2 linked regions of the Homo sapiens genome follow. The protein of the gene in region 2 purifies or fractionates together with the protein of the main gene of each other region. This does not show direct contact. Each region holds a gene or a part of one and is shown on either strand. Other genes may lie near its edges.

Evidence for each region.
Region 1: the proteins of SERPINB2 (region 2) and FKBP15 purify together in Homo sapiens (affinity purification with mass spectrometry; 2 studies listed by BioGRID and IntAct, with this or other methods). This does not show direct contact.

Annotation. Positions count from the first base shown.
Region 1 is NC_000009.12:113,168,556-113,172,870, reverse strand, and holds part of FKBP15 (FK506-binding protein 15), read left to right. Parts: intron 1-1,164; coding exon 1,165-1,290; intron 1,291-2,241; coding exon 2,242-2,349; intron 2,350-2,928; coding exon 2,929-3,647; intron 3,648-4,314; coding exon 4,315-4,315. UniProt on the Homo sapiens protein: May be involved in the cytoskeletal organization of neuronal growth cones. Seems to be inactive as a PPIase. Involved in the transport of early endosomes at the level of transition between microfilament-based and microtubule-based movement.
Region 2 is NC_000018.10:63,896,688-63,901,507, forward strand, and holds part of SERPINB2 (plasminogen activator inhibitor 2), read left to right. Parts: intron 1-403; coding exon 404-532; intron 533-1,039; coding exon 1,040-1,157; intron 1,158-4,820. UniProt on the Homo sapiens protein: Inhibits urokinase-type plasminogen activator. The monocyte derived PAI-2 is distinct from the endothelial cell-derived PAI-1.

The DNA.
Region 1 (4,315 bases), on a different chromosome or scaffold from region 2:
TTAGGGTCATGGTGTGAAAGTCCATATTCGAGGTCAGTTTCTTTCCTTAAAGTGTCCAGTTGAAAACTTTTGGCTCAGAGATCTTGGAGGCAATCTTGCAGATGAATGACAAATGGGTTGCTGTTAATGCTGAATGTTTATGTCTAAATGACTAGTTATTACCTACCCTCCTGCTCTTTTTTCATTATATTTTTTACCTGATTGGGAACAAGGCAAGCAACCTTCTTGGGAAAGAGAAAGTGAAGTTTTGCGTTGAAGTCGAATGATGAGGAGATAGAACTCTCTGAGGCAGAGGGTCGTGGGTGGGGGCTGAGGGAGTGGACACCAGCAGACCTAGGCGAGGTTAAGACTTGATGTTTAGAGATTCTGGAGAGGATGTGGAGAAATAGGAACGCTTTTACACTGTTGGTGGGAGTGTAAATTAGTTCAACCATTGTGGAAGACAGTGTGGCGATTCCTTAAGGATCTAGAACTAGAATTACCATTTGACCCAGCAATCCCATTACTGGTTATATACCTAAAGGATTATAAATCATGCTACTATAAAGACACATGCACATGTATGTTTATTGTGGCACTATTCACAATAGCAAAGACTTGGAACCAACCCAAATGTCCATCAGTGATAGACTGGATTAAGAAAATGTGGCACATATACACCATGGAATACTATGCAGCCATAAAAAAGGATGAGTTCATGTCCTTTGCAGGGACATGGTTGAAGCTGGAAACCATCACTCCCAGCAAACTATCACAAGGACAGAAAACCAAACACTGCATGTTCTCACTCATAGGTGGGAATTGATCAGTGAGAACACTTGGACACAGGGCGGGGAACATCACACACCGGGGCCTGTCGGGGGTTGGGGGACGGGGGGAGGGATAGCATTAGGAGAAATACCTAATGTAAATGATGAGTTGATGGGTGCAGCACACCAACATGGCACATGTATACCTATGCATCAAACCTGCACATTGTGCACATGTGCCCTAGAACTTAAAGTATAATAATAATAAAAAAAAAGAATTTGAAATAAAATTGTCTTTTTATTATATGCAAAAAAAAAAAAAAGAGACTTGATGTTTGGGTGGTTCTCCTCCCCTTGGGTTTTCTGACCTTCACCTGGTTCCTGAGGCCACAGCCACAGTCTGTTTGTTTTGCAGTGTTTAGCCCTCCAGGCCCAAATCACAGCTCTCACCAAGCAAAATGAACAGCACATCAAGGAACTAGAGAAGAACAAGTCCCAGATGTCTGGGGTTGAAGCTGCTGCATCTGACCCCTCAGAGAAGGTGAGCTGGTATTTCAAATGAGAAGCAAGCCATTTATATCAAGCATTCAGAAAGAACATGGCCAGTATGTTGTGTTAATAGCTCTTTTTCTAACTTTAGTGATGTTTTACTTGTCTGATGACTTTAAAATGAACCAGATTTGGTGTTTGTTTGTTTGAGACGGAGTCTCACTTTGTCACCAGGCTAGAGTGCAGTGATGTGATCTTGGCTCACTGCAACCTCCGCCTCCCAGGTTCAAGCGATTCTCCTGCCGCAGCCGCCTGAGTAGCTGGGACTACAGGCACGCGCCACCACACCCAGCTAATTTTTGTATTTTTAGTAGAGACAGGGTTTCACCATGTTGGCCAGGATGGTCTCGGTCTCTTGACCTTGTGATCCGCCTGCCTCAGCCTCCCAAAGTGCTGGGATTACAGGCATGAGCCACCATGCCCGGCCCAGATTTGGTTCTTGAGTTTAAGGAGCTTACAGCCTAGTGGGAAAACAAACAAATACATACTTACATATTAAGTGGCAAACCCAAAAGAACCCTATCTTTCTGAGGTTTTGACAGGTATAGGAAGGGCCTCTAACCACAGAAGAAGAATGGGGCTTGGGGAGTGTGCCCAGCATCCACTGGCCTCTGACCCTTAGAGCCTATGGCAGCTCCTAGTGGTGCTCACAGTGGGAGGGGGACATCAAGAAATGGTCTTTAAGCAGTCTTGGGCACACAGACCACAGCTTGCCTGCCCTTGATAGGTAACTCTCATGACTAGCCCTTCTGTCAAAGTGCTGCTCATTATTTAATATCATCCTCTCCACAGTGACAGCCTTCAGTGTCTCTGCTTATGACCAGCAGTATCCCAGTGTAGAGATCTAAGATGGCTTCATTTTGGCCTTCCATACACCTCTCTGGAATTTAATGCATCCTTTAGTGACTTGATTTTGACAGCATGTGTTTTGATGTTCACACAGGTCAAGAAGATCATGAACCAGGTGTTCCAGTCCTTACGGAGAGAGTTTGAGCTGGAGGAATCTTACAATGGCAGGACCATTCTGGGAACCATCATGAATACGATCAAGGTACAGCCAGCCAGCTGTCATTTGTTTCATCGTATTGGGCATTTTGTTGCTTAAGTACCTTCTAAGGGATCATGAATAAAAAATTGTTCAAAGCTGGCACAGTGGCTTATGCTTGTAATCCCAGCATTTTGGGAGGCCAAGGTGGGAGGACTGCTTGAGGCCAGGAGCTTGAGACCAGCTTGGGCAACATAATGAGACTTTGTCTCTACTAAAATTAAAAATTTAAAAATTAGCCGGGTATGGTGGCACGTGCCTGTAGTCCCAGCTACTTGGGAGGCTGAGGCAGGAGAATCACTTGAGCCCAGGAGTTCAAGACTACAGTGAGCCATGATTGCCCCCAACTGCACTCCAGCCTGGATAACAGAGCAAGACCCTGTCTCCAAAGAAAAAAAAAAGAAAATTATTCAGGACTGTTCCTCAGTAATTAGGATGCCTGGAGTGACTTGACAGATATAGTCAGCCTCTTTTAACAGGAAAGAAGCAAAGTCATTTAAACTACATGACCAGTAGTGTTAATAAGAATTAGGAGTGGCTACTGTGTTCCTTTCAGTGACCATCTCTTCCTTGGCTTTTGAATAGATGGTGACTCTTCAGCTGTTAAACCAACAGGAGCAAGAGAAGGAAGAGAGCAGCAGTGAAGAAGAAGAAGAAAAAGCAGAAGAGCGGCCACGAAGACCTTCCCAGGAGCAGTCAGCCTCAGCCAGTTCTGGGCAGCCTCAAGCACCCCTGAATAGGGAGAGGCCAGAGTCCCCCATGGTGCCCTCAGAGCAGGTGGTCGAGGAAGCTGTCCCGTTGCCTCCTCAGGCCCTCACCACTTCCCAGGATGGACACAGAAGGAAAGGGGACTCAGAAGCTGAGGCACTCTCAGAGATAAAAGATGGTTCCCTTCCACCCGAACTGTCTTGCATCCCATCCCACAGAGTTCTAGGGCCCCCGACTTCAATTCCACCTGAGCCCCTAGGCCCTGTATCCATGGACTCTGAGTGTGAGGAGTCACTTGCTGCCAGCCCAATGGCAGCTAAGCCCGACAACCCATCAGGAAAGGTCTGTGTCAGGGAAGTAGCACCAGATGGCCCACTACAAGAAAGCTCCACAAGACTGTCCCTGACTTCAGACCCCGAGGAGGGGGACCCACTGGCCTTAGGGCCTGAAAGCCCAGGAGAGCCTCAGCCTCCACAGCTCAAGAAAGATGATGTCACTAGCTCCACCGGTCCCCACAAGGAGCTGTCAAGCACAGAGGCAGGTTCCACAGTTGCAGGAGCAGCCCTCAGACCCAGCCATCATTCCCAGCGTTCCAGGTATGTTCCTCTGAGCACTGCTTCAGGGACAGGGTAGTTATCTGTGGTGAGTGTCTCTGTTTTTTCCAGGGCTGGCAACTCATCCCTCAGAGACTAATTTACTCATGTCTTCATTCATTAGTTGATGTATTAATTCAACAACACCTACCATGTACAAGGCTCTGTGGCGGGCCCTACAGTAGTGTGGCGGGCCCTGTGGTAGTGTGGCGGGCCCTGCGGTAGTGTGGCGGGCACTGTGGTAGTGTGGTGGGCCCTGTGATAGTGTGGTAGGCAAGGCAGGTTTGGTTCTTGAGTTTAAGGAGTGACAGTCAAGTGGAGAAAACAAATACATACTTACATATCATAAAGTATGATAAGTCCTTTTAAAAAAGAAACAGGGTGCTATTCTAAAGGAGTTGTTCCACTTTAGATAGGGTGGCTAGGGAAGGATTCTGAGAAGGTCACATTGAAAAGATGACTCTGGCTGTAGGTTCTGGAGGGGGCCAACCGCACTAGGAGGCCACTGTAGGGTGTGGGAAGAGATGGTGGCAGCGGAGGTGGGAGGAATTCCTGAGCAGTCACCAACGCTGTTGAATTCTTACCCAAGGGCCGGTGACCCTTGTAGGTGGTGGGTACTGTGACCTGGAGCAGGAACAATAACATTTTCTATGACTTGATTTTCCTTCAGT
Region 2 (4,820 bases):
TAACTATAACTATTAATGAACACAATCTTATTAACTATAGTCATTATACTGTACATTAGATCCCCAGAACTTATCCATCTTATAAATACAACAAAAATTCCTTAGAGACTTTGAAGTTTAGGAAACTGAGAAGGGGCCTTTCTTCTAGGCTGTTGGTCACCTGGTTAAATCCAATCCATAGACAGAGCAAAATTGGAAAGAAATTAAAATTCACCTTATTAGTTTTAATGTACCACATCCTTATCGAAATGATTTTCTCAAAGATTCCTCTAATGTACCAAAAATAAAGTATGTATTAATATAGCATTTCATGATTGTATTCAAAAACTATTACCATGGCTTAAGAACTATCTTGTTTAGTAGTTCTGTGTTATATATAAAGAATTCCTTCTTTCTTTTCAAGGCACAAGCTGCAGATAAAATCCATTCATCCTTCCGCTCTCTCAGCTCTGCAATCAATGCATCCACAGGGAATTATTTACTGGAAAGTGTCAATAAGCTGTTTGGTGAGAAGTCTGCGAGCTTCCGGGAAGTAAGTGAAACCTGTAATTGAAATGGCTGGATCCCAAACAAGTAATGAAGTCACTTTCAAAGCAGTTCTCTACAATTCAACAGTTCATAAAAGCAGAGTTGGAATTCCACACCAGCTCCCTAGGGCTGGCCTTGCGTAACAGCTGCCCTTCCTGTACCCTCTGGGGCTTCCTCCTCTTCCCATTGCAAATGTCCCAATCTCAGAGTCATAAATCAGGAAAACAAATGCAACTGTTTTCCAGAGACACTATCCCCCAAGTCAAACCTCTTTCCTTTTATTCTGTCTCTATAATGCAAGGAGTACAAGAGGGTGGATAGAGTTGGGGAGTAAGCGTGGACAAAGGGGTCTGCACTCTTTCCCCCTTCAGCACCTGCCTTCCATAGCCAACCTCCACTCCCACCCTACCCCAGGTCTCCTAATTTCAATGGGAAGACCATAATTCACCATTATGCCATGGCTTGTTTGGTATGTATTTTATGTAGCCTTTGTCATTTTCTTGCTTTAAAGGAATATATTCGACTCTGTCAGAAATATTACTCCTCAGAACCCCAGGCAGTAGACTTCCTAGAATGTGCAGAAGAAGCTAGAAAAAAGATTAATTCCTGGGTCAAGACTCAAACCAAAGGTAAATCCAAGAAAATATTTTATTTACTTCTTTCCAGTTAGAAAACTCTGATCTATCTTTTTCCATCCATGAACTTAGTTAGCCCTCACCCCTTTACAATTTGTCCAACTGCAGTTACTTTGGTGGATGTGAATTTATTCCTGATTAGCTCAGTGGTGTTTTAACTGAGAAGAAATAATTGAGGCCTACTAATAGAAGACATATGTTTAGTACTTAAATATTTGATTTTGGATATTGCTTGAGGATAGAATATGAAAGGAGGCAGAAGCTTTCAAAATAGGAAATATCAGCATTGAAATAATTGTGAGTCTATGCCCACTGTGGACAAAAAGAAAACAAGGCTTGACCCTGAGCTTAGTAAATGGTGTGAGCTATAAAGAATACAGGCAGTGGAGGAGGGAAGAATCATAAAATTATTTTCACTCTTTCTTCTCTTTCACCATTCAAAGCCAATCCATTGTCAAGTTTTTTTGGTCTCTGCTTCATCCCTCCTTGATTATCTAAGTCACGTCTACCATTTTAACTCATGCTTTTAATTGTTTCACAGGCTCCTGCCTCCCTCTGTATATTTTACAATGAATAAATTATTTAATTGAATCATTTATTCATTGTAATTTAGTTTATTAAGTCATTTATTCATTGAATTCATTCATTCATTAAGTTCTATTAAGTTCATTCACTTAGTCAACAAATATTTATCCACCACACACCATATTCCAGAAACTATATGTGGAGATAAAGATAAAAATGGTAAATCCTGCCACCATAGAGCCTATAGAGGAGGGATTCAGTCATGTTGGCAATTGCTATAGAGTAGTAGTCAGTGCTTTCATTGAGAAGTACAGGTGCTATGTGGGAGTACACAGGAAAGGCATCTGACTGGATTTAAAAATGATTAAATTGTAATTGGGAAGACAGGCTGGAGCTGGCCAGGTGGAGGGTGCATGCCTGGGGGGAGATTTCCAGACAGAGTGCACAGAATATGCAAAGGTCCAGAGGTAACCCTAAGGAGAAGAATAGAGTCTGGTCTGACTGCAGTGTGGAGGGCCAAGGGAAGGAGGTGAAATTAAAGAGGTGATGCAGTACACTTATTATGCTATTCCCACACTAAAAACTGTCAGTGACCTCCTACTGTCCTCAGGAGAAGGTCTCATTCTTTACCTTGACTTCTGAGTTCTCAGTAATCCAGTTGACTGTGCTTGGCTACCACTGGCCCTTGGAGCTCCTTAAACACTCATTGCTGCCTCTAGACTTTGTTTCTGAGGATGCCTCAACTACAGGATTTAAGTTGCAGTTTAAATTGCAGCCAAAGTCTTACTCTTTCCTGGAAGTGACTCCCAATTACTTCCTGATCTTTTCTTCTTCTCATCTCCTCATCTGCTTTTTCAGCTTCACAAGTCACATTAGTGTTAGCCATATATGGCCTTAAACAATTATGGAACTGATTTTTGTTAGTTTGTTTTGCTTTTCCTCTCAGGCTCTAATTATTTTTGGGTAGGTCCAGTATGTCACACTTATCCTATGCCCCCACAAAAATTTGCACAGTTTTTTGCTGACAGTGAAAATCCTTCATTCTTCTGAATTTCCAGGTAGAGTTGTAGGCCTTAAGTAAACAATTGCTGAATAATAACATATAAATGTATTTCTAAGAAACAGAGATGATTATGAATTCAGAATTGTGTAAGTATTTCATTCATTTATGATCTGTTAGGATTGAAAATGTCCTAAGAGAGCTCCTATCCATCTTACCAATTTGTGGTTGGAGCATCCTGTTCCCAGGGGATTAGCCGGCTCCCCTAAGATCCCACTGGTAGCGGTAAAGCCAGGGTTGCTTCTTCTTCTGATCCTTAGTCTAACTCCAGAATTCCTCAATCGGATGTTTAAAAATTTTATAACTTATTTTTTTAAGGATTTTCATTTAACTCTTATGTTTAAGACATTGTTTCAAGAAATAGTTTGGTGTCTTGCTTTATTAATTACCACAATGGAAAATGCACATAAACTAAGTGCTATGGGATTTCAAAAAATATATATTTATTTGTTTATCTGAAAATAATTGATTTCCTTTTAGTTCTTCATTTTCATTGTGGATTTGTGAAATACTGTTCTAAAATATTGACAGACCACTGACACAAAGGAAGCAGAGAAAGATGATTTAAATCAAAAGTTCAAGTAAAAATGGAGAGCAAAATTAAAGAGACACATGGAAGTTTTGCCTTCTTTAAAGAATGGCATGAATTGTTTTTCTCTTTAGACATTGTGCTAAATGGCTGTAAGTCAATCAGTTATTTTGCCAAAATGCCAAGCAGCTATTTTGGCAGATTGTTTTACCAGCTTTTGTAAGAATTGGAGAGAATTGTCTGTTTCATCATGCTATGATCAAATACTAGTTTTATCATATACATCACAACATTACTATACCCCAATACTAACCAAAAATTTTAATAGCTTGGGAAATATATTGAATGTATATATTAAATGAATACATTGAAGATGAAACTGATGCAAGGCAGGCAAGCTCCAAAGTGGGGCTTAGCCTTCAAGGGTTCTTGGCTTCACCCAGGAAAGTATTCAAGGGTGAGCTGGAGGTAGGGTAGAAGAAAACAGCTTTATTGAAGTGGCAGTATTACAGCTCCATGATTCCTCCTGCAGAGAAGGGCTACCCCAGGCACTGTGCTGAGAGGCACAGCTCAGGGCAGTTTGGGGGTCATATTTATACCTACTTTTAATTACATGTAGATTAAGGGGCAGTTTACGCAGAAATTTCTAGGGAACGGGGAATAACTTTTGGGTCATCAGGTCATTGCCACAGAAAGAGGTGGTAACTCCAAGGTGTTGCCATCACAATGGTAAACTGACATGGTACACTGCTTCCATCCTGTCCCTGGTCCCCATTTTAGCTAGCCCTCAATTTGGCCTGGTGTCTAAAACCTGCCTCCAGAGTCAGGTCCCACCTCCTACTTCAAAACCACATTGACCTATTAATTTGTTAAGAGTCTTGTATTTGTCAGTAGTTTTGACTGTGGAGGCAGAATTTTTACAAGCTTACCAGCATTGTAACGTTGGGAAGACTGCTAACCTGGTGGTGTCCTTTTGCATAAAATGACACTAATAAAACCCACCTAATAGAGTATCAAAATAATATATTTTGATGCTTGGAATACTGCAGAGCGAGTACTAACTATAAACAAACTGCTTCTTAAACCAATTTCATTTTTTTAAATGACCACACTCATTTGTCATTGTTTCTGTCAATCTTCTCGGGCTTACTCCTTCACTCCCTTCTCTGTATGATCATAGTACTCAATATATTATTTAGCTCAATTACAGAAGTTATCACACAGGGTTTCACAACTGATTTTGAATGTCTCCCCCAGTGTTCTAGGCTCATCCAGGATAATTCTTCCTTTCTCATCTCTTGTATCTGCACTACTCTTAATTTAGGTCTAGTATATTTTTTACAAAACGTTTTTGAATAAATGAGTAAGTCAGATCCTCAGACTATCTAGACCAGATCTAGCAGTACATGATATATTTTGGAAAGGCACTATTATATTCCCTAAGAACCTCTCTTTCACTTCCCTCTGATTTGAATAACTTTCAACTGCCAAGCTTTGAGAAAAGAATATAAAAGGGAGTGAAAATCTCCATTCCAAACTTGAT